Regions from separate parts of the Homo sapiens genome. Here region 1 is linked to region 2. Evidence: fine-mapped QTL for protein levels in blood plasma. A gene starts in region 2. The other region holds a variant in brackets. All regions are shown on one strand. Distances are between the middles of the regions.

Evidence for each region. PIP is the chance, under the fine-mapping model, that this variant and not a neighbour inherited with it causes the effect. The UK Biobank Pharma Proteomics Project read protein levels with antibody pairs (Olink). The fine-mapping took linkage between variants from a reference panel, not from the people measured, so its PIPs are less certain.
Region 1: its variant is fine-mapped to the plasma level of the CD160 protein (UK Biobank, PIP above 0.99).

The regions. Positions count from the first base shown.
Region 1 is chr1:148,330,595-148,346,598 of GRCh38, reverse strand. It overlaps MIR5087 (microRNA 5087), which reads left to right and starts at 12,045; the gene lies at 12,045-12,120. It overlaps LOC124904403 (a long non-coding RNA gene), which reads right to left. Exons shown (of 2, transcript XR_007066575.1): 2 at 15,427-16,004. It overlaps LOC124904404 (a long non-coding RNA gene), which reads right to left and starts at 12,734. Exons shown (of 3, transcript XR_007066576.1): 1 at 12,648-12,734; 2 at 11,840-11,945; 3 at 1,965-2,370. It overlaps LOC124904402 (a long non-coding RNA gene), which reads left to right and starts at 1,604. Exons shown (of 3, transcript XR_007066574.1): 1 at 1,604-1,955; 2 at 2,218-2,386; 3 at 10,680-11,185. It also overlaps the pseudogene RNVU1-21. RefSeq lists enhancers at 11,188-11,297, 10,845-11,352, 11,353-11,862, 11,578-11,877, 12,228-12,307. The variant TA/A (reference allele first, on the strand shown) is at 13,144.
Region 2 is chr1:145,709,068-145,724,563 of GRCh38, reverse strand. CD160 (CD160 molecule) reads right to left here and starts at 5,065. Exons shown (of 6, transcript NM_007053.4): 1 at 5,005-5,065.

The DNA of each region.
Region 1 (16,004 bases), 2.6 Mb before region 2:
ATTTCTTGGTTAGGATCCAAAACCTGGAACTAACCCTCTGTGACATGGGGCTTGCCTCTGGGCTCTGCCTTTCTTTCTATCTTTATAGAAATCATTTTATTTTCCTTCTTCTCCTACTCCTTTGGTTCTTCCTCTTTCTACTTATGGCAGCATCCTCCCCTTAATCCTTGGCACATTATCCCCAGCAGAATTGGTCAAATGTTGCCCATGTCACGGTCCTGACCATCTCCATGAGGGGCTGTCCTTGTGACCCCCTGCTCCCCTGGGACCCTCTTCACTGACCTGACCTCTCTGTCATGATTGCTTCCAGCTGACCTGGCTGGTTTAGGAGAAAACCTAGAATTGTGGAGACCCAGAACCAATCTCTGCCCTGTCTTATCTCCAGGAGAGGAAGAAAATAACAGGTATCATCATGGAGAAATGACCCACATGAGGGCTGAGACTCTCCAGCAGTTTCAGGAGAGGAAACTCCCTGAAGAATGGAGGAGCTGAGATCCCAGGCTGGGAAAGCAGGCTTGTGTTAAACATTACTTAATCTTTATGTGCTCCCTGCCCCAATCTACCAGCCAGTGAATGACAACTGACTGAGCATAAATACTAGGACTGTAGAACGGTTATAAAGCGTTTGTCCAAGGAAAAGCCCTTTTACTTTATTTGTTTTCACAGTGGAAATTGCTGTTTTTGATCCAAAGTTTTCTGAAACACAGCAGTGAGTTCCTGGAGGGTGAGTTAGCTGCTTTAGACCTGGAGGCTGAGGCCAAGGCTTGTGTGGTCGATCTGCTGCCACCATGTGGTGAGGGAGCCTGGGAGAGTCTTAGTCTTTCTTGGCTTCACTTTCCTCCTCAGTGAGTTAGGGGCTTATTGTTCCTCTCTGAGGTCCCTTCCTACTTTGTTTTCTCTGAGTCTCTGAGGAACTGAGATGGTTTTTAATGCCACCCAGGACCTGCAGCTGAGACCTGACTCTGTGTGTCTCCTGCAGGAGCCTGAGCTGAGTCCCTACACTGGAAGCCCAGAACTGAGGGAACAGATGAAAGAAAGAAAGTCAGCAGGTTTAGGGGATGAGAACAACCCACAAAGGACAAGCCATTGGTAAATGAAAACCAAAGAAGGGGGAAATAAGGACAAATTGGGACAGAAGCCTCAGGGGAAATGGGCAATGCCTATCATCATCCAAGCCCTCAAGGAGTAGCGTGAGCTGAGCAGTGGGGACTGAGAGAGAAATTTACTCCACAGGAGTCTCCTGCCCCTGGCCAGGGAGAGCCACAGGGTGGATCAGAGCTGGTTTATAGTGAGGGGGCAGCAGCAACTCCAAGGGGGGAAGATGCGACCATGAGCCCCGCCCCAGACCCAGGAGCCTTGACCTTGGGGCTGCCATAGCAGTGGATGCTCTTCAGGTCAGTGTGGGTTAGAGGGAATAACCATGCTGGGAGAAGGGTTGGAGACATCCATTCTTACATAAAAAGCTCTGCCCTAGGTCAGGTGCCAGAGTAAGCGTCCCTTGCTAGTATACAAAGCAGTGATACTTATAATATTCTTCTGTACTTACAGTTGAAGGAGGTTTCCAAATGATATCTCATAAATATTTATTGGGTGTTTAATTTTCTTTACATTGTGTTAAACACTTGGGATTCAGATATTAATGTCTCCCCAAAGGAACTCAAGCCCATGAGAGAAAGAACAGAAACATAGCATTTTAAGAAAATATGGAAGTTCCCCCATATTGGGGTGTTGTGGCAACCCAGAGAGTGGGAGTTTAGGTGAAGACATTGCTCCTAACGACAGGGGGAACCATAAGAGGACTTCTTCAGAACAGACTCATTTTCCTCTAATGTCCCACAGAGACGGATCCTGGGGCATGAATGGTGTAAGGCAAGGGCCAGTCTAAGGAAAGGGATTTGCTGCATCCTGGGAGAAATCTCAGCATCCCTGACAGGATATTTGGGACAGGAATGCAGGTGAGAGGAGGTTTGCAATCGCTTTTATTCAATAATTGATGAACACTCTCCTGAGAACTCCCTCAGTGCTAGACCCTGAGCTGGGAACCATGAACACAGAGATTAGTAAGATATGATCTCAGCTTTCACAGAACTCTCAGTCTAGTGACCAGCGATTCCTGAGAAGTATGGTGATGGTGGGTTCATTGGAACCAGTGGTTCATGCTGCATGGAGATTACCTCAGTGGATGGCCTGGTCTCTCTTCTGTTTTTTTTCAAACAGCTGAATGACCTGTCCTGGGCCAGTGAACCTGGACTTCAACCAGATGTCAGAATCTCAAGGTACAACCAACATTTTCGCTCCATGTTGGGTCAAAACAGTTAACACAGCCAAGATATTCAAGGTTTCAGTAGATACTGACTAAGTCCTGGCCAGCTGTGAAAAGAAAGAGGTGAGTTTAACAAGAATTCTAAAATTGTCCTTGACATAGTAATCACAGATGATCTATCTTCTGTCTACTTTTATATATATATATATATTTGTGATGGAGTTTCGCTCCTTTTGCCCAGGCTGGAGTGCAATGGCATGATCTCAGCTCACTGCAACCTCTGCCTCCGGGTTCAAGTGAATCTTCTGCCTCAACCTCCTGAGTGGCTGGGATTACAAGTGTAGGCCACCATGCCCGGCTAATTTTCTATATTTTCAGTAGAGATGGACTTTCACCATGTTAGCCAGGCTGGTTTCAAACTCTTGACCTCAGGTGATCCACCCACCTCAGCCTCCCAAAGTGCTGGGATTACAGGTATGAGCCACCGTGCCTGGCCTCTGTTTGGTAATTGAAATGCTTTGCAGACTTCAAGATTCACCTGTGTCCAAAATAAATTCTATATCAGTCATAGTACTAGCATTTAGAAATTGTGTATTTTATCCTCTAATTATAGATTAAATACCTAAGGTGGAAAGGAGTAAAGCAGCTTCCATGAATGTAGTGAGAATGTAGGGGGGTTAGGGACTAAAGTCCTGCCTTAGGATTCCCCAGCAGTTGCCAGTCACAATTTTTGTACTCTAAGAAACAACAACAACAACAATAACAACAAAATGACAACCTGTTTTGTTCCTCTGCTTACCCTATCCAATTCTCTACACCATAACATCTCTGCTTATCAGGCAACTTGGATTCTCAATTTGTTGAGCTCAACAAGTGCATTTCCTGAGCCCCTGTGAGTAAAGCATTATGCTAGTTATGGCGGGTGATACAGAGGAAGCACAGAAGAGTCCTTAGTGACAAGAGCTTAAGATTTCTGCTCCCAGCTCAGCCTGAGTTGCCTGGAGGTGAGAAAATCAGTAGCCGACACACAGGTGCATTCTGGTGAAAGGGTCGATGATAATGAATAGTGGTTCTGACAGGGCTGGGCTCTTAACCTCCCAAAGATGCTGGTCAAACAGGATCTGGAGGATCTCTGCACATAGTGTCTGACTACTGACTGTCATAAATGAATGTCGCCAAGTCTTGGCCTGGATCCCCTCCCTTTGTTTCATTTCACAGATTACATGTTGACAGCAGGAAAATCAACAGAAAGACCATGAGGCTAGACTCCAAAAGACTTAGTAATGCTGCTGGGTGGGCCATGAATTTCTAAAAACTCGTGAAGGGCCTTCTCAGAAGTGAAGTTTTAGGAAATATAAAATGCATAGCTGGGATACATTATAGTGTACTGATAGAACAAATATTGGATATAGCAGCATCTAATAACTTCTGGAGGAAAAAATATTTTTCACATTACTCCAATTATGGCCTCATACGTCAAAAAAAAAAAAACAACAGCAACAACAACAACAACTAAGAGAACCACTAACATCCATTGGTTTTGCAGAAACAGGATACCCTTAGTGTACCTAAAATTGGAAAAATGGCTCTGCCTTTAGGGCCATGGAATGAAACAGACTGTGTGGTAGTTGACACAGGAAGAACAGAGTGGAGTTTATAACAATGGCCACAAGACAGTGAAGAAAATGCTTTGGGGTTCTTAAGCAGCAGACGAGGTGACTCAGAGGAATGTTAGACAATCGCAGAAAAGCAACTTTAGCAACATTTTCAACTCAGTGGGCACTGCATACTTAGTCCATGCTCTGCATCCATTCTTTCACAGTCTGTCCCTTCATCAACTTGGGCCTACAATGACTTTTCTGGGAGAGGAGAGGGATCAACACAACAGCATGCACACACCTGAAATAAAGAATGGATTTCTAATTTTCAGATTTTAGTCTCTGACCTAACCAAAGAAGTGACTACCATAGATGTTAACTATTAATAACATAAATGATGCTACTAAATATGCAGATCTTATATAACAAGGTAAAACAGCTTAAAAAATAGATGGTAGAACTGTAGTCCAGGGACGCTAATAGAAGTGACCCATAACATTACATCATCTCCACTTCCAATAACAATCAGGTAAAAGAAGGAAGGAGACTGGCAACCCAATGCACAGAACTATATATAACAGGCATACTATTTATTGGTTGGTTATAAACCAGTGGGAATAAATCTTTGTATATACTGACTCTTGGTTTATGTCACTGAGGCACAGCATGGAACAATAGAAACCGGACTGTAAGATAAATTCATTTGAGTAACTGGACTTTTGTAAACCATTAGACAGACATTTGAGAAGCCAAATTTAAAGCTGTTTGTGAGCCATGTTAGCCTATCAAGGTTGAAATTCAGGAGAGATACATAATGACAAATAAATGCTTTTGGTTTTTTGTGACACAGTGATCTGATGCATTGGGAATGTGATCTTGTGAATCACTCAGGTGAGCAAGCCTGACATGAGTGGGCATAAAGGTCAGTAACTGAAGAGGTACCAAAATGTGCTACATGTGTCAATTGTGACCTAAAGAACTGAAGGCATTCACCCTCCCTTGAAGTAATGAAGCTGACACAGCAGGGGGCTGCAAATTCCACTGCAGATCAGGGTCTTGAAGCTGACATACTGAAGAGTGGACTCTCACTTGAGATACAGAGTAGGAACTACTGTTTCCTATGGCTACTGAATATCCCACAAACTAATCTCCTCAGCATGCCATTATTAATTATTTTAAAGCTCTTTAAGGTCTCATTTTATAATAGATCACATCAGAAGGAAGACTAATAAGGATCAGGTACAAACTCATACTTGCTGGACATATCATTGCATATCATCCCAAAGTTTCTGGCACTACATAATACTGGAGTAAATTCTTGAATATTAAATTTTAAACTAAGGGAGAACATTGGCTTCTAAATTTTACAACTATAGTATTGCAGCTAAACACAAGTGCAAATGGGCAGCCTTATAACTGCATGAGTAATCTTAATGAAAACTTATTGGCAAACATACAGAACATTTCACATGCATTTATCTACAAAGTACAACTCTTCCCAACCTCAGAACTTGATATGCGTTAGGACTTTCCTCTCCCTTGGGCTGGTGATAAAGGTCCAATTGAAATGAGAAAGATTCTTCATGCCTGGTAAATATGAAAGTTTCCAAAGATACTGCCACTGGCCGATCAAACCTGAATTCAAAAAGCATTTGTTTCTAGCAGGATATAAGATCAATATGCAAAAATAAATTGTATTTATGCAATTGCACGGCAGAATTTAAATGTAAAAGGAATATCATTTACAATAATGTCAAGTGTATAAAATCCATAAATGTGAATATGACTGAAAATTAGAGCATATTTCACAGAGAACATAGTGCAGGCCTAATAACTGGAAAGATATTGTTTGTTCATGTGTAAGAATATTGTTGAGATGTCCATTTCCCCTAATTTGATCTATAAATTCAATGCAATCTGACTCAAAATTTCAGCATGCATCGTTGGTAGAAAATGGCAGCTGATTCTAAAATTAACATGAACTAGCATAACAAAAATGCCTATATAACGAAGAGCAAAATTGGAGGGCTAGCTCCACCTGATTTAAAGAACAATCACAGAGTTGTAATGGCCACAACAGAGCTTTGGTATGTGATCAATTAAATGGATCAAAAGAAAATAGAGTCCAAATATAAACCAATACATATATTGAGAACAGATTTTTGACAATCTTAAAAAAGCAATGTATTTAAAAATACATAATATTTCAACAAATGATTGAGGATTTTCTTTTTAAGCAATTGATGTAACATATTTGTAACTATATAAAAATAAACAAGTAGAAAAAATTGAATTCATGTGTCATATCATATATAAAAATTAGTGGTTACAAGAGGCTGAGAAGGAGATAGGGGATAGGCTGAGAGAAGGAGATGGGCTGAGAAGGAGACAGGAGAGAAGGAAGAAAAGGTATTGGTTAATGCATATAAAATATAGTTAAATAGAAGGAATAAGTTCTAGTATTTGATAGTATATACAAAAATAACTTCTTGTATATTTTAAAATAACTAGAAGAGAGGAATTGGGATATTCCTAACATAAAGAAAAGATAAAGTTTTGAGGTGACAGATATACTACTTACACTGATTTGATCATTACAAATTGTATATGTTTATCAAAATACCATGTGTATCCCCAAAATGTGTACAACTATTATACATTAATTAAAATAATGAAAAGTACATCTTAGACAAATTAACAATGATTCCAATCCGATCAATTATTTTTTCTGACCACAATGGTATGAAACTAAAAATTAACTACATAAGGAAAACTGGAAAATTCAAAAATACATGGAAATTAAACAACATAACTCTTAACAACTGACTGATCAAAGAACAAATCAAAAGGGAAATTTGATTGAGGCAAACAAAAGTGAAAACAAACAACATAATCTTTTGGAAACAGCAAAAACAGCTCTAAGAGTCAAGTTTATAACCATAAATGCATACATTAAAAAAGAAGAAAGACTTCAAATAAACATTACACCTCAAGAAACCAGGAAAAAAACAACAAAATAAATCCAAAGTTCAGTGAAGAAAGGAAACAACATATCGATGCAGAAGTCAATCAACTGAAGAATAGAAATACTACAGAAAAATAAACAAAACTGAGTTGTTGGGTTTTTTTTTTCCTTTTCCTTTCTCTTTCTCCCTCTTTTTAGGAGAGACAACATCTTACTATTCTTCCCAGGCCTACTGGGAACTACTGGCCTCCAGTGGTGATGCAACGTAGGCCTCTCACACCCAAGTTGTATTTCTGGAAAAAGTAAAATTAACAAACACTTGGCTAAACTAAGAAAAAAATAGAGAAGACTCAAATAAATAACATCCGAAATGAAAGTGGAGGTATTACAACAGAAGCCTCACAAGTAAAAAGGATCATAAGAAACTATCATTAACAGCTCTATACCAACAAATTGGATAACCTAGAGTAAATGGATAAATTCTTAGAAACATACAAACGACTAGGATTGAATCAAGAAGAAACCGAAAGCCTGAACGACCAATAACAAATAAAAGGACTGAAGAACCTCCCAACAAAGAGAAGCCCGGGACCAAATGGCCTCACAGCCGAACTCTTCCAAACATTCAAAAAAGAATCGGGCGCGATGGCTCACTCTTGTAATCCCAGCACTTCGGGAGGCCAAGGAGGGCAGAGTACCTGAGGTCAGGAGTTCAACACCCTGGCCAACATGGTGAAACCCCGTCTCTACTAAAAAAATACAAAAATTAACCGGGGGTAGTGGTGCGTCAGTGTAATCCCAGCTACTTGGGAGGCTGAAGTGGGAGGATTGCATGAGCAAGGGAGGTTGAGGCTGCAGTGAGCTGAGACTGCATCACTGCAATCTAGCCTGGGCAACATAGCGAGACCATGTCTTAAAAAAAAAGAAAGAAAGAAAAGAAAAGGAAAAAAGAAAGAAAGAAAAAGAAAGAAAGAAAGAAAAAGAAAGAAAGAAGGAAAGAAAGAAAGAAAGAAAGAAAGAAAGAAAGAAAGAAAGAGAAAGAAAGAGAAAGGAAGAAAGAAAGAAAGAAAGAAAGGTATTGCTGATGAAACTGTAGCCTCTTTCACAGCTCATCAAAAAGCTATTCATTCACTGGCTAAGGTTGTACTAGATAATCGCGTCACTTTAGATGATGTATATTTTCAAAGACACTATTAGCCTTATTTAAAAATGGGTAGAACCTGGGCTAGGTGGCTCATGCCTGTAATGCCAGCATTTTGGGCAGCTGAGGTGGGTGGATCACCTGAGGTCAGGAGTTTGAGATCAGCCTGTCCAACAGGGTGAAACCCCGTCCCTACTAAAAATACAAAAATTAGCTGGGCACAGTGGCATCTTCCTGTAGTCCTAGCAACTTGAGAGGCTGTGGCAGGAGAATCGCTTGAACCCAGGAGGCAGAGGCTGCAGTGAGCCGAGATCGTGCCACTGCACTCCAGCCTGGGAGACAGAGAGAGACTCTGTCTCAAAAAAATAAAAACAAAACAAAAACAATGGGTAGATACAGCAGCACTTACAAGAGTTCATAAAAGGAATTGTACATTGTCAACTGATAGTGTGGAGAGAGCAGCCCCCTGCCCACCTGGTTGTGATCTATGCACAACGCTTGCCCACAACCACCTTCTCCACTTAGTACAACGCAGCCCAGAACACCAAGGGGAGAGCCCCAGCAACAGCAGCCTCCGCAGCCCGCTTTAGATGATAGATTTAGCTGAGCAGGGAGGTGGATGTGTGGTGTTTACAACCTCTTGTTGCATATACATAAATAAATACTTCCCATGAAGTAGAACCTCATCTAGAAAAAATTAGAAGTCATTTGGCTACAAGAAATCATGAAAGAAGAACTGGGATGTGATGTTTTCCCTGATGTTTTTCGTTGGCTCCCTAATGGAATAGGTTCCCTTACTGTTCTGGCATACAGATTCTCTTTGTGATTCTCATTCTTGTGTGAATTATATGTGTACTATTCAAATAATTAATGCTATATATTTCCTGCTTCTGAGAAAACTGATTTTATGGTATCTGAAGACTAGAAATGATTCAACGAGTGATAGCTGCAGACTTAACTGAGGTCTCTCTCTCCTCCTTTTTTTCTTTTCTTCTCTTTTTCTTTTTTTTCTACTCGGTGTCACCCTTTCAATTGGGCTTTTGGGTGCTCTTAAAAATTCCTCAGTGAGGCAGCTCCTTTCCTCCCCTGCCCTCACCGTGGGAAAGACTATCTGGGAATGAGCTTTCCTGGCAAAGAGGGACACGTTGGCTGAGCTTTTGATCATCAATGCTTTCAAGAAGAAAGATTTTTTAAAGAATTTTTATCTGAGGAATGTGAGCCACTTCACATGATCAGAGAGACATTAAATCAAGACAGCAACCACTTTCTGCTTCCTTCTTTTTGAGCTATGTATTCATCTGTTGAAACTGCTTGCTATCACCCCAGGTAGCTGTAAATTAATCTAATAATGCCACACCAAACACTGTATCCCACACCCTATAACAAGGGATAGCCAAGCTCTCATCAATGCTATTTCTGAAAGCCAATGAGAATTCCTGACGGGCACCTTTCTATCAGCCCATTGTGCATCCCCCCCTTTTGACTTTTAAAAACCTGCTTGTGACAAAGGCCAAAGGGAGCTCAGATCCAAGGTTCTTTGGGTGTGAGTCTTCCAGGCAGCTGTCTTCACATTGGCTCAAGTAAACTCTAGATTCTATTTTGTGATTCAGCCTCTTTCTTTTAGGTCAACATGTTCAGCAACAGTAGAATAAATAGATAAGTTGGCCGATATTCATACAAAGGATTGTGCACAGAAACAAATAACCACATGAGTAACATGAAAAATTCATAGATGTAAGACTGAGTGAAAGAAATCAAACCTATGCCTCTGCTCCTGAGACCGACTTTGAAAAAATTATAACTGGGACAATTATCACAGCAAAAGAGATCTGACCTAACTGCTTCCGTCTTGCTTCTAACATCCAAGCTGTCTTTGTTCTTTCCTGGGCACAGGCCAAAATAACTTTGAGAGGAACTTAGTTTATGGTTTAGCTGTGAAACAAAGATGATAACAGCTCTTTCCCAAAACAAACCCCCTTCCTGCCTGGGGACTAGGCTGCCTTTGCAGGACTAACAAATTAGCCACAAGATTATAAATCATGGTTTAGGATCATGCAGCCTCTAGCTTACAAGATTCTAAACCTCCCCAAGTTGTTCCTGGGGATCACATCACCATTGTAAAACCTAAGATCGGTTTGTGAGATATTTTGTAGCCCTGCACTCGATGCATCAGCTGGCACCACCCAGATGGATAAACCAGCTCATCTGATCCTGTGGCCCCCACCCAGGAACTGACCCAGCTCAAGAGCATGCTTTAGCTCCCTGTGAGTTCATCTCTGACCTGTCCAATCAGAACTCCCAACTCACTGTCCCCCACCCACCAAATTATCCCTAAAAACTCTGGTCCTAGAATGCTCAGGAAGACTGATTTGAGTAATAATAAAACTCTGGTCTCCCACACAGCCAGCTCTGGGTAAACAACTTTCTTTATTGCAATTCCCCTGTCTTGATAAATTGGTTCTGTCTAGGCAGCAGGCAACAGGAACCCACTGCGCAGTTATACTCCCCCAAAACCCACTACACACTTTATGATTTGATTTATATGAAAGCAAAGGACAGGAAAAACTTGCCTGATAGATTTGGAGTCTGTGGAGTATTGTCAGAGTTTGGGATTGTATTCTACAAATTAAAAGTAATCAGTTAAGCACCTCAAATAAAATTTCCCCCAATTTTTTTTCTCCAAATTTGGACCACTTGTTTCTCTCTTTGCAGAATATAAAGTGCTAACATGAGGTAAGTGCTACGGTCTACAGAAGGCCATGGAAGAGATGACAAACTCCAGCACCATGCCTGAGTGTCCAGTGTGCTCTGCTGGGGCAGCATATTTGTACATTGCTGTATTTGAAAAAATCCTACAAGATTCATGAAATTGGACCACCGTCTTTATAGCACTACTAATGGTAAAACAAGTAAGGATGGCTGGTTTGCAGTCATCTGAGCAGCATCTCTAGTTTCATAGATATGGTTTCTCTCTGATACTGAACGGCTTCCAATTTCAAGTAGAATGCTACATCAGAAGAATAACGATGGGAAGAGAACTAGTTTCTTGTGTAATCCTACATGTTTTAGTCTGCGCATTACAAACCATTATTTGAAGAAGGGTGGACAGCCTCCAGCTGTCTGCCAAAGAGGTCATCGGCAACACAGGCTAAGAACCGGCTTCTGGGCGGGCATGATGGCTCAGCCTGTAATCCCAGCACTTTGGGAGGCCGAGGCGGGCGGATCACCTGAGGTCAGGAGTTCGAGATCAGCCTGGCCAACATGGTGAAACCCCGTCTCTACTAAAAATACAAAAATTAGCAGGGCTTGGTGGTGTGCTCCTGTAATCCCAGCTACGCAGAAGCCTGAGGCAGGAGAATCGCTTCAACCCTGGAGGCGGAGGTTGCAGGAAGCAGAGATGATGCGACTGCACTCCAGCCTGGGCGACAGAGCGAGACTGCGGCTCAAAACAAAAAACTACAACAGAAACACCTGCTTCCTTGGAAAGATTGGGGCGGGGAAGGGAGGGAAAGGAAGGAAAGGCAGACGTCACTGTCCCCGCAGTCTCTGGCAGCATGTTGGTCGGCTGAGTGGCAGAAGGTGGGGCGGAAAAGCAGAGCCGGACGGGAAAGGCGCTGTCAGTGACATCACGGATAGGGCGACTTCTATGTAGATGAGGCAGCACAGGGGCTGCTGCTTCGCCACCGGCTGCTTCGCTACGAAGGAGTTCCCGTGCTGTGGGAGCAAGTCCAGGACCGCTGTTCAGACCTGAAAGTCCCAGCTGTGTGTCAAGGCTGGAAGGGCTCCGGGGTGCGCGGGGCAAGTGACCGTGTGTAAAAAGGGTGAGGCGTGTGGAGCAGTAGCAAGACGGAAACGTGTGAACTCCTAATTACCTGGCATCGGAGAGGACGTTATGAAGGTTGTTTTCCCAGGGCGTTGCTTTTCCATTGCACTGTGGACGTGCTGATCCTGCGATTAACCCAAATGGGAGAAATTTGGCTGCACAATAACAGTGGAGAACTGCGTTAGTGCTTTCCGCTGAAATCTTGCAGTGCAAAAAGTGAATTCTGCAGGAAGGGCTACTCTTAGTTTCTACTTAGCTTTCTACGGGTTTGTAGCTTTGCTGGCATGTTAAGTGTTGTCCTACAGTCGCAAGCATAAGAAAGAGAAAGTATTGTGTTACTGTCCTCTCCGCCCCTATCATGAGCTTGCTTAACACAAGCTAAGTGGCCCCAGTGCTCTTCTCTTCCCTTTCCACGTGGGGCTGCTTTTTCAAGATTGCTTCATGGTCTCCAGTGTCTTGGGTTCTCACCCTATGTGAAAACCTTCGTGTTTTTTCGTAGCCCCCGGAGTCACCTTTCACACAGCCTGTGCTTCTAACCGCAGCCCCCACAGAAGTTTGTAGGATTTCTGTGCTAGCGGGGAATGTGTTCTCACCTCCTAGAGCCAGGTAGAAATTCTAGGCAGACGGGTGCTGTTCTTTGGGATGAAAGCAGTGTCCCTGTTCGGTTGTAGACACAACACGCTTGCTTTCTGTAGGGGAACGGCTCTCCCCGCGCCCAGGTGCCCTTGCTTATGTTCACCGAGGCCTTCAGGTCAGAACCGCAGTCTGACTTGTCGGCAGAATGTGTCGGCGATCTACCCCAACTACCCAGCAATAAAATGGGACACATTACAGAAACATGAGATAGCATGGATTACCTCAAAAACATCATGCCGAGTGATGAAAAGAGGGCATCCTGTGTGGCGCCATCAAGGTGAATTTCTAGAACAGGTAAAACTAACCTGTATAGTGACAGAAAATACATCATTAATTGCTGGGGCCAGGGGGAGGGCGGGACTGACTGCAAAGGGCACAAGAGGACCTTTTAGAGTAATAGTCATCAAACTTGAAATGGATGCATTGTACCATAGGCAACTCACACCTTAACTTGGTTGTAAAAAGGAATAAGAAAACCACTCCAAATCTTAATGTCTTCTCCTTAATTTAATGTATGTTTGCCCTTAGAGGAGTCGTTTAGACAAATGTCTTTCTAACTGTGCTAGGGAGTTCAGGAATTCCTTCATTTCTGTTTCTGTCTCTTTGTCTGCAGTTAAGTTCATGCACTATTAAGTGGAATATTTGTAAAATAAAAATAGAGTCTAAGCTCAATTTTATAAAAGCATACATATATGTTTTTATATATTTTTATATTTT[TA/A]AATATAGAATTATATATACTATATAATTTTATATATTAAATATATATTTTATATATTTTTATAATTTTATAATTTTTTCAGGCATATATATCCTTCTTTATTTTTTTTCTTCTTTTTTCTTTTGTGGGGCCTGGGGGGAACAGTCTAGCTAAAATATACTTTCTTCTCTCTGTAGATATAACACAATACCATGACTCCAGTGTTGCCCGAATGTTATGAGAAGTTATTTTTGAACTTAAGGTGATCAAAAATTTTACATATGTTTACATTTTCTCTACTGTTAGTACGGTCTATGCTTAGCATGTATAAATTTTTTTTAAAAAAGACAATAGCTTAAAAATGATTCGGAAGAAAAATATGTAGATATGTTAACAGTAGTTAATTCCAGGAGGTGTGAATATGGATGACCAGTTATCTTCCTCTTTATGAATTTTTTATATTTTTAAATGGAAAATCCTCAATGACCTGGAAGTGAATGAACAGATTAGATTTGGAAGGGGTGTAGGGCAGGTGAGAGGAAAATGTTAAGGGAAGGACAAACCCAGTTCTGGCAGGACCATGTTTAAGTTGAAGGTTTCTGGGGAGAAGTTGTTGGGATAAGAAGGATATGAAGGAGGCAGGAGAATCATGAAAATATTTAGGACAGTGTATTGCCTGTCTTATCATTCCTCCTCCTTTTGTGTTTCTTCAAAAGAAATACAAAGACTTAACATTTCTTTTGAAGCATGCTTACAATTTGTGTTTCTCTTTTATTAGTGTAACTGCCTGGTAAGTTTATTCTGCCCATTGCCCAGATAAGCCAATGGAGCTGAGAACAGCAGGCTTTCCACAATAGAGAAAGAATTTAACAAATGCAGATGCAGCTGAGGGACCAGGACAGGGGTTTATTATTACTCAAATCTGCCTCCCCCAAAATTCAGAGACTAGGGTTTTTGTTTTGTTTTGGTTTTGGTTTTTGGTTTTTGGTTTTTTGTTTTTTAAGGATAGTTTGGCAGGCAGGGGGCTAGGGAATGTGCAAAGCTGATTGGTTGGAAATCACAGGGTGTAAGAGCTTGTTTACTTGCACTGAGTCAGTCCCTGGATGGGGCCACAGGACCAGATGAGCCAGTTTACCAGTCTGAGTGGTACCAGCTAGTCCATCACAAGGCAGGGTCTGAAAAATATCTTAAACACCAATATTAGGTTTGACACTAATAATACTATATATAGGCACAATTGGGGAGCTTAGGAATCATGTGACTTCTGGCTGCACGGCTCCTGAGCCATAAATTCCAATCTCGTGCCTAATTTGTTAGCTTTGCTAAGGAGGTCTGATCCCCAAGAAAGGAAGGGGTTTGTCTCAGGAGCGACAATCATCTTTGTTTCAGAGTTAGACTAAACTAAACTCCTCTCATAGTTAGCCTGGCCTATTCCCAGGAATGGACAAGGGCAGCTCAGAGATTAGAAGCAAGATGCAGTCAGTTAGGTCAGATTTCTTTCACAGTCATAGTTTTCCTATGTCAGGTTTTTCTCACTGTCATAATTTTTGCAAGGGTGATTTTGTTAGGAGCAGTATAAACACAGTGGTTCTGAGAATGTCTTCTGGAGCCAGGCTGCCTTCACTTCAAATTCCTGCTTTCAAATTCTTCTTTGCTGGCTGAGTGACCCTGGACAGGTCACTTAACATCTTTGTGCATCTCAGTTTTCTCATATGGAAGATGAAGGTGATGATGTGACCTCGGCCTGAGGTAAGGACTAAATGAGTAAACATATGCACACTCATCAACTGTGCCTGACATGTGGCACTTTGTGTTGCAGGCACAGTTGATGATGTGCATGTGTTTCTCATGTGCATGTTAGCTCTTGTATTTTGCCTGCAACACTGCACAAAGAGCAGATGTGATGAAAACCAGTTGTACTGAAGTTACAGCAGTGATACTTTCCAATGGCCATGCACCCTCCCAGGGAGACTGCAGCAATCCTCTCACCAGCAGTAACCTCCTGGGCTGGGAGATCCCAGGAAGGCCCCTTAATCTCCAGCAGGTTTGACCCTCTAGGAGCTTCAGGGAATGAGCTAGAGAAGTATTTCTATCTGGGGGGAACTGGGAGTTTATTAGCTCATCTGTTCAGCTCATCCAAAGGGGAATAATGATGCAATTTCTTGCTTCAAATCTGCCCCAGTAAAATTCTTATAGTTTTACAGTCAAAGACATTTGTACATGTCGGGGAGGAAATATGACTTTTCCTCACCCAGCCTAGGTTCACTGCTGAGACCCTCACAGCAAAAGACAGACTAATAAGAGAAGAGCAGATGTATTTATTTAATGTAAGTTTTACATGACAGGAATGCCTTCCAAAGGAAATGAAGGCCCATGGAAACAGCTAAACCTCAGTTTTTTGTTTGTTTGTTTGTTTTTTAAGAGTAGTTTTATTGAAGAATGGATAGTCATGGAGAAGTATGATAAGACAATAAAAGTATGATCTAACAGTAACAAACTGGGGAAAACGGGGCCAGGCCTCTGTGTTCAGGCTCTTCTCTGTGTCCCTGTGTCTTCAGACTCCAGGATGCACCTTTCCTCTGGGTACAGAGAGGGAACATCTCACATAAGGGTCTATAATCGACTTCAGGAAAGAAGGGCAGGGGGAGGGTGACAGTGACCTTCCTGCTTCTATTGTTTATTCAAATTCCCTTAACATAAAATATTCAATACCCCAAGATGTTATATTTTGGGGTAGCATGTCCTGAACCCCATCATGCACATGCAACAAAACCAAGAATATTTGAAGAATGATGACTATAAAACATTTAAATTCAAAATACAATTGATGGCCAAGTGGGGTGGTTCACAGCTGTAATCCCAGCAGGGAGGAGCAGGAAGG
Region 2 (15,496 bases):
TAATGGATGAATACTATTCAATATAATGGAGAAATGTATATCTCAGATAAAATTGCAGCATCATATTTAATGGTAAAATATGGGATAATTTCTATTAATATTAGGAGCAAGGCAGAGATGCTTCCTATTATTTCTGTTATTTCACATTGTTCTGAAAGTGTTTGCCATTATATTTAGACAAGAAAATAAAGCAAAGGGTATAAATATTGGAAATCTTAAGGCAAATTTATTACTATTTATATGTGATATAACTTACATCTAGAAAACCCAAGAAACTTAATTGAGAATTATTAGAAACAATAAAAGAGTATCTGAATAGGCAGTTCACAAAAGACGAAATGCAATAAAAAGTTTTTCAGTTTTACAAGTATTCAGGGAAGTACAAATTAAAAATTCAGAGTTCAGAATTTCAGAATTACCACCTGTTAAGTGAACAAAAATTTAAAAGATAAATCAAATTTTGGTAAGGGTAAGAAGAAATATGTGCAATCATTCACTCTAGGTAGAACTATACATTGTTACGGAGCTTTGGGGGAATACTCATTATATATTAACATTTCAAATGCACATACCCTGTCCCTTTGGCTATAGCTTACAGAAATAAAAGCATGAGTGTGCTAGTATAGATGTACAAGGATATTCACTGCAGCATTTTTTATAATACCAAAAAAATAGAAACAGGTGAAGGCCAGGTGTGGTGGCTCACACCTGTAATCCCAGCACTTTGGGAGGCGTGCGGATCACCTGAGGTCAGGAGTTCGAGACCAGCCTGGCCCACATGGTGAAACCCTGGCTCTACTAAAAATGCAAAAATTAGCTGGGTGTTGTAGCAGGTGCCTGTGATCCCACCTACTCAGGAGGCTGAGGCAGGATAATTGCTTGAACCTGGGAGGCAGAGATTGCAGTGAGCCAAGATCACGCCACTGCACTCCAGCCTGGGCAACAGAGCAAAACTTTGTCGCCTTCCTGCCCCCATAAAAAAAGGAAACAGGTGAAGACCCACTGGTGAGAATGGTTGAATAAATTATTGCAGATCCACAGAATAGAATGTTATGTAATTATAGTTTGTATAAAACAATAAACTAAATTAGTGTATATACATACAATTTAATAAGGTACTTATTAATACATAAGATTAAAAATTTTCCTGGATATAATTATTAGTCAGAAAATATGGTAGAAGGAAAAGTTCCATTCATTATAGCAACCAAAAAACCCATCAAATGTCCAGAAAAATGTAACAACATTCCGAATAGGACCTATAGGATACAAACTATACAGTACTATTAAGGAACATAAAAGAAAATCTAAGTAGAGACGATTGTTAAATTCTTCTGTACTTATCTATACATTTGTCACAATCCTAATAAAACATCCCAGCAGCAGCTCATGGTATGGCCCCAATGTCCTTTCCTAGCCTTGACCTCTCCTTGTTCCTTCTCCTGTGTTATCATACCTTCATGCTACACCAGAATGTCCTGGTGACTCTTGAAACATGGAATATTAAGTGACAAAGAGGATAAATGAATAAAATGACAAATCATTTTATTCAAAGAGGAAGACAAAGAAGGATTGCAATTATTCATTCAGCCCAGAATTATGGTTAAAAAGCGTAGACTCTAGAGCCAGAGTGTTTGTGTTCAAATCCTGGTCCTAAAACTTAATAGTGGCGCCGGGCGCGGTGTCTCACGCCTGTAATCCCAGCACTTTGGGAGGCCGAGGTGGGCAGATCACGAGGTCAGGAGATCGAGACCATCCTGGCTAACACGGTGAAACCCCATCTCTACTAAAAAAAATACAAAAAATTAGCCGGGCGTGGTGGCGGGCGCCTGTAGTCCCAGCTACTCGGGAGGCTGAGGCAGGAGAATGGCGTGAGCCCGAGAGGCGGAGCTTGCAGTGAGCTGAGATCGCGCTACTGCACTCCAGCCTGGGCGACAGAGCAAGATTCTGTCTCGAAAAAACAAAAATAAAAACAAAAAAAACTTAATAGTTGCATGACTCGGTCAAGTTTCTTAGGCTCCTGGGCCAGGCGCTATGCTCAGCCTTTAATAAATAGACATATTTCAGAAACACGGAGCATCTATAATGTGTCAGACACCATGGGGCACAGAGAGATCACTAACACAGCAGAGGCGGACGTTTTAGTGGTTAAATGGTCTCTAGAGTCAGACCAGGATGTTTCAGATCTGGCTTTGAAACTTAACTATCTGTGTAATATTGGGCAAGTTTCTTAATCTCTTAATGACCTATAAAATGGTGACAAAATATTCTCTTCCTTGGGTTGTGAGGGTCAAATGAGGTCACCTATGTAAATTACTTAGCACAGTGCCTGGCAGAGAGTAAGGGCTCAATAAATGATAGCTATGATTAGTTTTATGCTTTCTTATATTGGAATCAATGGACAGTGTTCCAGGCACATCTACCTGCAAGACTGTGTTTAGTCCTTATAAAACACTAAGCCATTATTATTTTCTAAAATTTATTATTTGTACGAAGCATATAGAGGCTTGGAGGGGACTTGTGACTTGCTTAAAATCACAGCTCCTAAGTTGGGGAGCAGGACTCTAACCCAAGTTATGAGAGTCTTTCTCTTGGAGTCCCCTTTGTCCCTCTCCTCACAGCCGCTCATCCATTCACGAACAGCTGTTAACACAAGAACGACTGTACTAAGTAATAAGGTCATAAAGTGTCAAGGGGCAGCACAGGAGAAATTCTGGATGAGGGATGTGGAAAGGCTGCAAGATGGCAATGAAGTTAGGCCTTCATAGTTGTTTGTGGGCTCTCGGGAGCTGGTGACTAAAGAATACGGTGGGTGAATTAAGGTGGGGAATGGGCTGAGGAGATCTGGCTTCCAGTCCTGGCTCCGCACTAGGTAGCTGTGGAATGTTGACAAGGTCGTGTCCCTTCTCTAGGCGTGTTTCCTAAGGGACTGGTGCAGCGGGATGGGAGGGGCGCAGGGTAGGGACCGCTTCCAAGGAGAGAGAGGACAGGCGGGAGGGGCTGATGCAGCTGGTCACTCCGCTGGAGTGGCCAGACTTCGCGGTGCCTAGGGCCGAGTTGAAGAAGAGCATGTAAGTCTGTTGTGGGCCCCTCACCAGCGCTGGGGGGCAGCGAGGTCACTGGGCAAGGATGCTCTGGGAAGTGACCTTGGTGCCCGGGAGGGGAGCACCCTGTTGTGATGCAGGCGGGGCAGCGCGGAGCCGGCGGCGCTGATTTCGCACTCTGGCCGCTAGAGGGCGCTGCCTTTCAGCCAAAGCCGAGTGACCCCCTACCTGCCCCGCGTTGGCCCGCGTCACTCCAGCCATGGGCCATCCAGCGAGCATGGGGGCTAGCCAGGGAAAGTCTAAACTAGGAGGGGAGATGAGGGGGTGCAAAGTTGGGCCTGGTGGGTCCTGGGGACGCAGCATGTACTAGAGCGGCACCTGGCCCTCAACAGAGGGGAGAGCGGGTGGTCGTGAGAAGTCTGGGAATTTTCCGGGCCCACTACACGCCAGGGGCGGGTCTCCCCTCTTAAAACGTTGTGAGCCCCAGCGCGGGCAGGGGGGAGGGTGCCCGTGGAGTTGGCATCCTCATCTTTGATGGTCCCCGGGGCTCCTGAGCTGCGCTGGTGGCCCCAGGGCTCGGTGCCTCTCTCAGGCGACAGCTCACAGACGGCGGGAAACTCTTCCCTCCCGCACCTTCGGAGGCGGTCCTGGAGTCTTGTGGACTCCTGGGTTCAAATCCAAGCTTTGTGTGACCAGCACATTGCTGGACCTCACTCAGCCTCACATTCCTCTTGTGTTTAAAACTACCTCATAGGAATGTGGTGACGGTTAGATGACACATAAAGCTTTGCCAGAGGTTTTCTGGGGAGGGTGGGGACAAGAGGGCAAGGAAGAGTCTCCATTTCCTCTGCCACCGGAGCCCGGATCTAACCTCTCAGAGGAGCTGGAAGGTCAGCTCTGAGCTCCACAAATACCTCTGTATACAGATCTCCCACGACACTGAAAAAGATGCCCAGAAAGATCTCATTTGCAGCTGTGAAGGGGCTTCTTTTTCAATCTCCACAACCCCAACTGCCTTAAAGTAGAACCAGACTTGTTAGTAGACAGAGGTTTGGGCTGGGGGGCCCTTGAAGCTCTTGTCTGAGATCTCAGGCTTCCTGCTCAACACACCAAAGCAGGTGCCTGACATAAAGGCGCCATGGACCTCTTTGGTGGTCTGGGAAGGCATATGGAGTCCCTTCTCAGAACAACATTTAAAAATTAATAAGATACATGGGATAATAAAGGGAACAAATTATGACAAGACAGTTGTCAAAACATTAGAAGAATGTGTGGTAGAGCAGTACACATGCTTCTTTAGATTTGACATCAGCCTAATAACTGTTGTAATTCTGTAGTAGTGCTGAGCGTTAAGGACATTTGGAGAAATCTATAAAAACTGTAATGAGATTTGAAAATATTTGTGTTTTCTATTGATGGCAAATTCTATTGTGGTTCATTGTCTACATTCATAACTGAAGCAAGTGCTGACTTTCAATTAAAGATTAGTGAAAATAAAGATGTATTTTTCCCCCCAATTCACAAATCCCATGAATAAATCTATTCACGGACCTCCAAGAGGTCCATGACGTGAACCACCTAGGACATGAACTTCCCCCGGAGGTGCCTCACAGGGCCAGCTCCAAGCCCCGTGGCACCTCCCGGCTTGTCTCAGGCCAATCCTTGAAGAGCTCCAGCAGATCTAAACTTTGGTAACTTTCCTCTGGTAATTTGAGGAATTCCTCCATTTGAGGAATGTCAGAATGGGGCCAGGATTCCTGAATGCCCATGGAAGAAAAGCGAGCATGCTGGTCTGGCGGGCAGAAATAACCTTCTCCCCAGGCTCCAGAGGGCAGAGGACATTTCCCTCCAAAAGGCAAGTTTCTCAGGGACCTCATGAGAAGCCTGTCCTCACCTGAGCAGTTCTGTCAACCATCCCATCCCTTCACCTGGACCCCAGGTCCCCAGCAGGCCTTTTTACCTCGAGACAGAAGTTCTTCTTTCTTGTTCTCAGACTGGGGGCTCACGTTGAAATGGCTCTCAGTCCTCAGATTGTCCTTGCATCTTGTTAAAACCCTATCTCTCCAGTTTCGTCATTGCTCACACTTTCATAGCTGTTATTATATTCGCTCTTTGAAAACCACAGAATGGGTTGTTAGAAGTCATAGATCTTCCGCCACCCCCACTGTGGATTTTTTTCTCCTTTCTCTCCTGCAACTGGTCCTCCATCTCCTTCTCCTTTCCTCTCCCTTGTTTTGTCTTTTTGGTGTTAGAAATAGACTAGGGTGCTGAGGGGGCTAAGAAAAACCACTTCTTAAAATTCTTTTCTTTACCCTGGGGAACAAAGATTTTGTATTTGCTAATTCATAATAAGGAAAGGACTGATGATAGAATAACTAGAAGATAAAAGGACAGAATGTCCTCTCAAGTATAAAGAAAGGTACCAAGTCTTCTCCTGAGAGTAGGTTTTGGTTAGAAGTAGGACAGAGAACACAGCTGCTCCAGGCTGAAAGGGAAGAAGGTCAGGGAGCTGTCAAGAAGGCTTGGGTGAGGGTGGTGGTGAGCAGGGGAGGCAACGAGTGGGGGCACCAAAATGGTCCTGATGTGGTGGGGGGAGGATGAATGACTGACCTTATCTTCCCACCCACCCATTTTTTTTCTTTTTCTTTTTTCTTTCTTTCCTTTTTTTTTTTTTTTTTTTGAGACAGGGTCTTGCTCTGTCACCAAGGCTGGAGTGCAGTGGGGCAATCATGGCTCACTGCAACCTTGACCTCCTGGGGTCGAGTGATCTTCCCACCTCAGCCCCTCAAGCAGCTAGGACCACAGGTGTACGCCACCACACCTGGATAACTTTTTATTTATTTATTATTTATTTATTTATTTATTTATTTATTTATTTATTTATTTAGAGATGGAGTTTCGCTGTGTCACACAGGCTGGAGTACAGTGGCGTGATCTCAGCTCACTGTAACCTCTGCCTCCTGGGCTCAAGTGATGCTCCTGCCTCAACCTTCTGAGTAGCTGGGATTACGAGAGCCTGCCACCATGCTGGACTAATTCTTGTATTTTTAGTAGAGACAGTTTCATCATGTTGGCCAGGCTGGTCTCAAACTCCTGACCTCAAGTGATCTGCCTGCCTTGGCCTCCCAAAGTGCTGGGATTACAGGCGTGAGCCACCACGCTCGGTTGATAATTTTAAAAATGATTTGTATGGATGAGGTCTCCCTATGCTGCCCCGCCTGCTCTTGAACTCCTGGGCTCAAACAATCCTCTGGCCTTGGCCTCCCAAAGTGCTGGGATTACAGGCCTGAACCACCACTCCCAGCTTCCCATCCATTTCTATTCTGTTCTGTTCTTCCTTGGTCAGTGATGGCTTGGGAGATTACAATTGTTCCTAAATTCTAGGGTTGTGCCCTTAGATGGCAGGAACATTAGTCTGAGAATTAGAAGCATTGGGCTCTAAGTCCTGCAAGGCTGGGCCAGGCCCTGTGCCAAAGGGCACAGCACACCAGGAAGCCCCACGGTTCTGGAGGAACACCTGTCATGATTGCCACCCAGTGCCAGGCTACCCAGGAATTCAAGGGTGGAGGGAGGGTGGGGGAAAATTTTTCATAACTAGTCTAGAGACTCTCTTTTCCTTCTTATTCCTGTTATTGTAGTACTCTGTGGTCCTAAAAACAGTAGGGTGCTCTGGGGTTTGAGAACTCCCAGATGGCTCCACTGAAGCCATCGTCAAATGAGACAGATATTAGAAATATTTCTTCACTCCAAGCCAGGCGCAGTGGCTCACACCTGTAATCCCAGCACTTTGGGAGGCCGAGGCAGGTGGATCACGAGGTCAGGAGATTGAGACCATCCTGGCTAACACAGTGAAACCTGTCTCTACTAAAAATACAAAAATTAGTTGGGCCTGGTGGTGGGTGCCTGTAGTCCCAGCTACTGGGGAGGCTGAGGCAGGAGAATGGTGTGACCCCCCGGGAGGCGGAGCTTGCAGTGAACCGTGATTGCGCCACTGCACTCCAGCCTGGATGCCAGAGTGAGACTGTGTCTCTAAAAAAAAAAAAAAAAGAAAAAAGAAAAGAAATACTTCTTCACTCCATCAAAGTGTTAGCTTTCACTGCAGAATGAGTCCATTCTGGGAGCCTGGGGGTTGGGAACCCATGTTGGGAAGAGGAGTGTCTCACCATCATCCTGGTCACAGGACCAGTCCACCACAGCCCACAGGATACTGGGTCCCACTGGCATAAACTGCTAAACTGGGCCTGGTCTCTGCTCTCCCAGTATCCTTATTTGCTGTCTCTATGATAGTGTTCAAACAGATGACCTCTCTGCTCTCTAAAATGGAGACTTCTCCCTCCTTGGGTCTATGAGAACCTTTCAAAGGTTGGCTCTGAGAGCACTCAGCATTCCTTATCATCCAGGAGCTGTAAAACAGTGATTATTAGCAACATGAAGAGAAGTTAAAGGCAACCAGAGTTGTGGGTGAGTGAGGTTGGGGCCACTTAAGTACTAGCTGACACACATGTATTCATACTGGTTATTGCAAAAAACCTCAAAGTTCTGCAAAGACCTCAGGGCTCAAAAGTGAATCGCAGCGCGCTTCCTTTTCACCAGCCATGTAGTGTCTGTCCATCCTGCAAACGGTTGCATGCACAGTTTTCTGCAAATGTTGCTTTTGGTCGCTTCTCACAAGGTTATTGTGTGCCAGGCCCTGCGGGGTTGACGATGACTGAATGGGGCCTGCTGTCAAGGCGAGCACACTGCTGAGAGAGGCCTGCATTCCCGTGAGATGAAGCAGAAGCAGAATGCACCAAGAGCTCTAAGTACCCCAGAAGTGAGAGAGAACCCAGGAAGCAGGGGAGGTTGGGAGGAAGAAAAGGAGACTGCCCTGTGGGCGCAGACAGTGTTAGGCACTCTGTGTGGACAATGTGACATTTAAATTGAGCTTTGAAAGAAGGCAGGATTTCAAAAGGCAGGGGTAGAGGAACAGTATGAACCAGCAAGGAGCAGGGACATATGGGGCTGGTTTGGAAGTCAGTGAAGCAATGAGGTGGCTGAAATATAGGCTGCCTCCTGGTCATCCACAGCCTCCCAAATATGTATCCTGTGGGCCTTTCAATGTCTAAGGTGTATGAGTCCAGTTACACAATTTAGCAACTGATAGATTGTTTTCAAGATACTAATAGTAAGTGCTCGACATTAAGACAAAGAAAAACTGAGTGGACATTGAATTGTATTTCCATCTTACTTCTGTAGAATTATGGGGTTTTGGAAGCAGAAGAGACTGCAGCAGTCTTCCAGTCCCTGGAAGTGTGCAGACACTTGCATGCCAGTGTTTCCCAAACTTGAGCGTGTATTAACATCACCAGCAGGGCATCTTTGAACAATTCGGATGGCTGGGCCCAGCTGCAGAGTTTCTAATTCAGGGACTCAGGGCAGGGGTGGGGGTGGTCCAAGAAGTTGTATTCCTAACAAGTTCCCTGGTGCTATTGTTGCTGTAATGCTCCTTGCGAACTGTTCAGGGTAATACCTCTTGCATCCTCTGCTTGAATCTGTCTACTGTTCTGCAGCTCACTACCACCCAAAGTATCCACACAATATCCCTTGTGGAATACTTCCAGTAAAATTCTTCCTTGTGCTGCTGTCAGTCCTGCCTGCCTTTAACTTTCAATGAAGTCTGCTGAGGGCCCCACATGGGAAATGTCTATGGATGGCAGGCAAGTCTCAGGCACATGAGGCAGACTGCCTGGATTTACGTCCTGACTCCACTTACTACGTGACCTTGGATAAGTCATTCAACCTTTCTGTGTTTTCCTCAACTGTGGAATGGGGATAATAATTGCAGTTATATCACAGAACTGCTGTTTAGAGTAAATGAGAAAGTGTGTAAAACAATTGGCATGGTGCTTGGCATATAAAAGTACTCAGGTGTGGGCTAGTATCATTACCTAGTGTTCTTTTTCTTTTTCTTTTTTCTTTTTTTTTTTTTTTTGAGACAGAGTCCCACTCTGTTGCTCAGGCTGGAGTGCAGTGGCACAATCTTGGCTCACTGCAACCTCTGTCTCCTGGGTTCAAGTGATTCTTGTGCCTCAGCCTCCTGAGCAGCTGGGATTGCAGCCACCGCTCCCACGCCCAGCTAATTTTTTGTATTTTTTAGTAGAGAAGGGGTTTCACCATGTTGGTCAGGCTGGTCTCAAACTCCTGACTTTAGGCGATCCACCTGCCTCGGCCTCCCAAAGTGCTGGGATTACAGGCGTGAGCCACCGCGCCTGGCCAGCATTACCTAGTTTTCCTTTCTACTCAGGAGTCTATCAACTCTCTGAAGAAAGTTAATCATTCTAAAGTTTCTCCTTTCTGGGCTAAATATCCCCAGCTCCTGCAATTATTTCTTACAATTATTTTAGTGCTTTCACGGTTCCAATATTTTGTTTGTCCTTTCTCCTCTTCTCTGAACAGAGTCCAGTTTGTCAGTCTCCCTTGTTAGATACATGGCTCAGACCTGCTACCTGCCTCGGCTTAGTCCAAGTCTCGTGTGTTCACTGCAGCCAAAGGTCACTTTAGCTTTGTAGCTATTTCTACATTTCACTGGACTGTGTTAGACTTCCAGGCCACGAAGGTGCCAGAGGCTACACCCGCATGTAAAGAGTAGAGCTCATTCTCCTGTCACATTTCCCCTTGTTGCTTAGCATGTGTGAGTTTGGGGAGTGTGGGTGAGGGAGAGTAACTCTGACCTTGGCCCAGTTCAGGGCCTACTGTGATGGTTGGTGAGCAGCCCCAGTGGCTGTGAGGGAGCACATTTGAGGCTCCAGGGGCTGGTGCGAGGCCCAGCTTCTCCCCTGGAGAAGGGTGAACTGACACCTAGCACAGCCAACAGTTTTCTGGAAGGAAACCAAGCCTCAGAGCCAGAGGCACATACAGCAAAGCTGTGCAGGCATCTCAGCCCCTGTCCCAGCCACTGTCACTGCTGGCCTTTAGCCCAGGGTCGTTGGTAATAGAATAATGATAAAATATGGAGAGGGAGTCAGGGCTGGGTTTTTTTGGTTTTGCTTTTTTTTTTTTTTTTTTTGAGACAGAGTCTCGCTTTGTCACCCAGGCTGGAGTGCAGTGGCACAATCTCAGCTCACTGCAACCTCTGCCTCCCGGGTTCAAGCGATTCTCCTGCCTCTGCCTCCTGAGTAGCTGGGACAACAGGCGCGTGCCACCATGCCTGGCTAATTTTTGTATTTTTAGCAGAGACGGGGTTTTGCCATGTTAGCCAGTCTTGTCTTAAACTCCTGACCTCAGGTAATCCACCTGCCTCGGCCTCCCAAAGTGCTAGGATTACAGGCACGAGCCACCACACCTGACCTCAGGGCTGTTTTATTGTGGAGACAGAGGTGGCAGCTTCAGGGGTTTGGGTATCAAGATGACAGGGCAGGCCTGGAAAAAAATGTCTCTCTCAGCCTCTATTCTAATTTCCAGTCTGTAGTGAATGGCTCACCAGGTACTCTCAAGTTATGTCTTTTAAAACAGAAGGCATAGAAAAATGTGCCCAAATTACTTTGGTGTCCTATAGAGCCTGTCTTGTCCCTCTCCGGTCATAGAGGACACCAAGTTCCTTTGCGGCCAGGCCTCCTCCTAAGGGAGACCAGGCCTGTGGGGCTGCTCCGAGAGCTGCCTGCAAGCCACACTATGTGAATCCCAGTGCAGGGCTCCTCTGAAAGGCACCTGCGAAGCTGTCTTTGGCTGAAGAAGTTGGGGAAACTGGTCTCCCACACTTGGCAATGGCCATTCTTTCTCAACCTTCCCTCAGGCACGAAGAGTCCCAGGTCTTGATGCCTCATTCTTCCATCAAAGATTTAACATTTACCCTCCCTGGTATTTTCAATTGATCCAGAGGAAATGAATAGGTAGTACTTAGCAAAGGGTGCTTAGCAAAAAAATACTCTGCTGAGTGGAATTGCAGGCACTTCTACAGTTGTCTGGAGGCACAGAGGCTGCACTCTACCCTAAGGCAAACTGGATGGTGCCATCCTCATGCTGACTTGGGCTTTAGAGGAGAAAATGTACTTTCTTCAGTGGATAATAAAGACAATCATTGGTCAGGTGTGGTGGCTCATGCCTGCAATCCCAGTACTCTGGGAGGTTGAGGTGGGTGGATCACTTGAGGTCAGGAGTTCAAATTCAGCCTGGCCAACATAGTGAAACCCTGTCGCTACTAAAAATACAAAAATTAGCTAGGCGTGGTAGAGCACACTTGGAATCCTGGTTGGGAGGCTGAGGCAGGAGGATCACTTGAACCCAGGAGGCAGAGGTTGCAGTGAGCTGAGATCATGCCACTGCACTCCAGCCTGGGTGACAGAACGAGACTACATTTCCAAAAAAAAAAAAAAAAGACAAGCATTGCTTTTTCCTTGGCAAGAATTCTTTCTCTTTTTTTTTTTTTTTTTTGAAACAGAGTTTCGCTCTTTCACTCTGTTGCCCAGGCTGGAGTGCAGTGGCGCAACCTCGGCTTATTGCAACCTCTGCCTCCTGGGTTCAAGTGATTCTCCTGCCTCAGCCTCCCAAGTAGCTGGGACTACAGGTGCCCACCACCACGCCCAGCCCATTTTTTGTATTTTTAGTAGAGACGGGGTTTCACCATGTTAGCCAGGCTGGTCTCGAACTCCTGACCTCAAGTGATCCACCTGCCTCGGCCTCCCACAGTGCAGGGATTACAGGTGTGAGCCACCGCGCCCAGCATCCTGGCAAGAATTCTAAGCAACAGAGTAAACAGGATGGGCACAATTAGTTTACTTTCCAAGCTAGAATGTCAGGGGGCACTGGAACCATTCTGGGGAAGGTAATACTTTGAGGTGGAATGTCTTTTTTTTTTCTGAGACAGAGTCTCGTTCTCTTGCCCAGGCTGGAGTGCAATGGCATGATCTCAGCTTATTGCAACCTCCACCTCCCGGGTTCAAGCAATTCTTCTGCCTCAGCCTCCCAAGTAGCTGGGATTACAGGCACCTGCCACCACGCCCGGAAGATTTTTTTTTTTTTTTTTTTTGTATCTTTAGCAGAGACAGCGTTTTGCCATTTTGGCCAGGTTAGTCTCGATCTCCTGACCTCAGGTGATCTACCCACCTTGGCCTCCCAAAGTGCTGGGATTATAGACATGAGCCACCGCGCCTGGCAGGGATGTCTTTTCTTTTTTTGAGACAGAGTCTTGCTCTGTCGCCCAGGCTGGAATGCAGTGGCGCAATCTCAGCTCACAGCAACCTCTGCCTCCCAGGTTCAAGCGATTCTTCTGCCTCAGCCTCCCTAGTAGTTGGGATTACAGGCATGCACCATCATGCCTGGCTAATTTTGTATTTTTAGTAGAGACAGGGTTTTTCCATGTTGGCCAGGCTGATCTTGAACTCCCGACCTCAGGTGATCCGCCCACCACGGCCTCCCAAAGTGCTGGGATTACAGGCGTGAGCCACCGTGCCCGGCCGAGGGATGTCTTTTAAATCAAGCTACAGACTTGGGCCACTAGGCTGTTCATGGTTCCTGATTCTTTCTCACTGACCCTTTACCTCTGCATGGGATGGTCCCCAGAGGGATGAGGTCAGGCTGAGGCTGTAGCCTTGATATACCTGACACTTTCCTTGCTCTTCTCCTGTTCCCCATTCTGGACCTTTGGGGGCCCTTGAGGGTCTGGCTTTTTAAGGCAGAATCCAAACTGCCCAAGAACCACTGATTGTTTCTGTATCTCTCAGAAAGGGGCAACCAAATACCCTTTTAACCAACACTCCAAGAGTGCCAAGACCAGACCTTGGTACATGCAGGAACCCAGAACATGGCATGTTCTTGTTCTGTGCCTTTTTCTTATGGTGGAAAAGGATTGTGTATTCTGACCCCTCATCTGGGAAAAGGAAGAACGAGTGAATTACTACTCGGATATCCTTGGCAGCCAGCTTGCAAGTGTTAATAATTCATAGCTCTCCAAGGATCCTCAGGCCTCCCCTGTCCTGACACTTGGTTACTGAAAAGAACTAGAAAGTTCCAGTCAGCAGTCATGTGGGGCCACAGTGTGTGCTGCAGCCAAGTGGCATTGCCCCGTCTCCAGCCTGTCACCCACACTGCTATAGAACATTTATCTCAGTCTTGCATCTGGACTCTGGCCTAATAAATTCCTCCAAAGGTATGCAGAGTACACAGTCGCCTCTTAAGGTGGGATGAGGCCAGAGTAACAGAGAGAGTGGAAAGGGAGACTGTCATAAATATTGACTCTAGACAGGGAGAGAAAACCACTGGAGCTTAAAATTCCAGGCTCAGAGTAAGTTAATGAGCTACTAAAAAGACAAGGTAGTAGGACATGCATACTAGGACAATCAGACCTGAAGTTGGAGGAAAAATGTGAGGATACCCACTGAGCCAGGCAGACTGGTATAGTAGAAAGGGCATTGGCCACAAAAGCAAAAGCACAGAGTTTTTAGCCATGTTTCTGCCTGAGGGGGCTTTGGCTAAGTCACTTCACCTCTCTGAGTCTTTGTTTTATAATAAAGAAAAATTGAGATGATACAATTCAATAACAACAAAAACAACTTGATTTTAAAAATGGGCAAGCAAATTGAATAGACATTTATCTAAAGAAGATACAAATGGCCAGTAAGCACGTGAAAAGATGCCCAACATCATGAATCATTAAGGAAATGCAAATCAAAACCACAATGAGATGTCACCTCAAACCCATTAAAATGGCCATCAATTAAAAAACAAACAAACAAAAAACAGAAAAGAACAAGTGTTCATGGGAATGTGGTGAAATTGGAACCTTTCTATGTTGCTGGTGAGAAAGCAAAATGGTGCAGCCACCGTGGAAAACAGTATGGTGTATGGTGGTTCCTTAAAAAATTAAATGTATGATCCAGCAATTCCTTTTCTGGGCAAATACCCAAAAGATTTGAAAACAGGGACTTGAACAAATATTTGTACATCCATTTTCATGGCAGCATTATTGACTGCAGCCTAAAGGTGGTAGCAATCCATTCCTTGATGGACGAATAAATAAAATGTGATGTATGTACACAGTGGAATATTATTCACCCTTCAAAAGGAAGGAAATTCTGACATGTGCTACAACATGAATGAACTTTGAAGACATTTGCTAAGTGAAATAAGCCAGTCACAAAAGGACAAATAGCATATGATTCCACACATAGAAGGTGCTTAGAGTAGTCAAATTTGTAGAAACAAAGTAGAAAGGTAGTTGCCAGGGGCTGGGGAGGAAGGAATAGAAAATCGTGTTTAACGGCTACACAGTTTCACTTTGGGAAGATGAAAAAGTTCTGGAGATGGATGGTGGTGATGGTTGCCCAATAGTGTGAAAGTACTTAATGCCACTGAATTGTATAATCAAAATGATTAAAATGATAATTTTTTTGTTATGAATATTTTACCACAATTTAATTTTTTTTTTTTTTGAGACAGGGTCTCGCTCTGTAGCCCAGGCTGGCGTGCAGTGGCATGATCGTGACTCACTGCAGCCTTGACCTCACAGGCTCAATCAATCCTCCTGCCTCAGTCTCCTGAGTAGCTGGGACTACAGGTGCACACCACCACACCCAGCTAATTTTTGTATTTTCTGTAGAGATGGGGTTTCACCATGTTGCCCAGGCTGGTCTCAAACTCCTGGACTCAAGCATTCCTCCCGCCTCAACCTCCCAAAGTGCTGAGATTATAGGCATGAGCTACCGTGCCCAGCCAATTTTTAAAAATTGGAGAGATCAAAGCTTCCTGACCAGATTGCTCAGGTGTGCCACATGTAGGTTATTGGCATGCCAAGATATTGATCCCTTTCATTTTTGAATAGATCATGCAGAGCTGAGCACAGCTGAAATCCTCAGGCAGGTCACTGGAAGAGCTTCTTCTTACTCCAGTATGCTATACACATATTGTAATGTTTAAAATTTCAATATAATTTAATTATTATTTATACAGAATAAGTGCATGAAACAAAAATGCATAGCTCGGTAATTAATCTTAAACACCTGTGTAACCTTCACTTAGCTCAAGAACTAGAATATTGCCAGCATACCAGAAGTTAGGGTCGTGTGTTACCACCTAAGCAGGAATCCCCCAAAGTTCTGCCCTATATTTGGACATCATGTAAATGGAATCCTAGTATGAAAATGAATGAACTACAGCTACTCACAGCAACGTGAGTGAACCTCACAAACATCATATTGAATGAAATAAACCAGAGACAAAAGGAATACACCAGGCCTGTAATCCCAGTACTTTGGGAGGCCAAGGCGGGAGGATCACTTGAGGTCAGGAGTTCGAGACCAGCCTGGCCAACATGGTGAAACCCTGTCTCTACTGAAAATACAAAAAATTAGCCAGGCATGGTGGCGGGCACTTGTAATCCCAGCCACTCGGGAGGCTGAGGCAGGAGAATCACTTGAACTCAGGAAGCGGATGTTGCAGTGAGCTGAGATTGCACCACTGCATTTCAGCCTGGGCTGTAA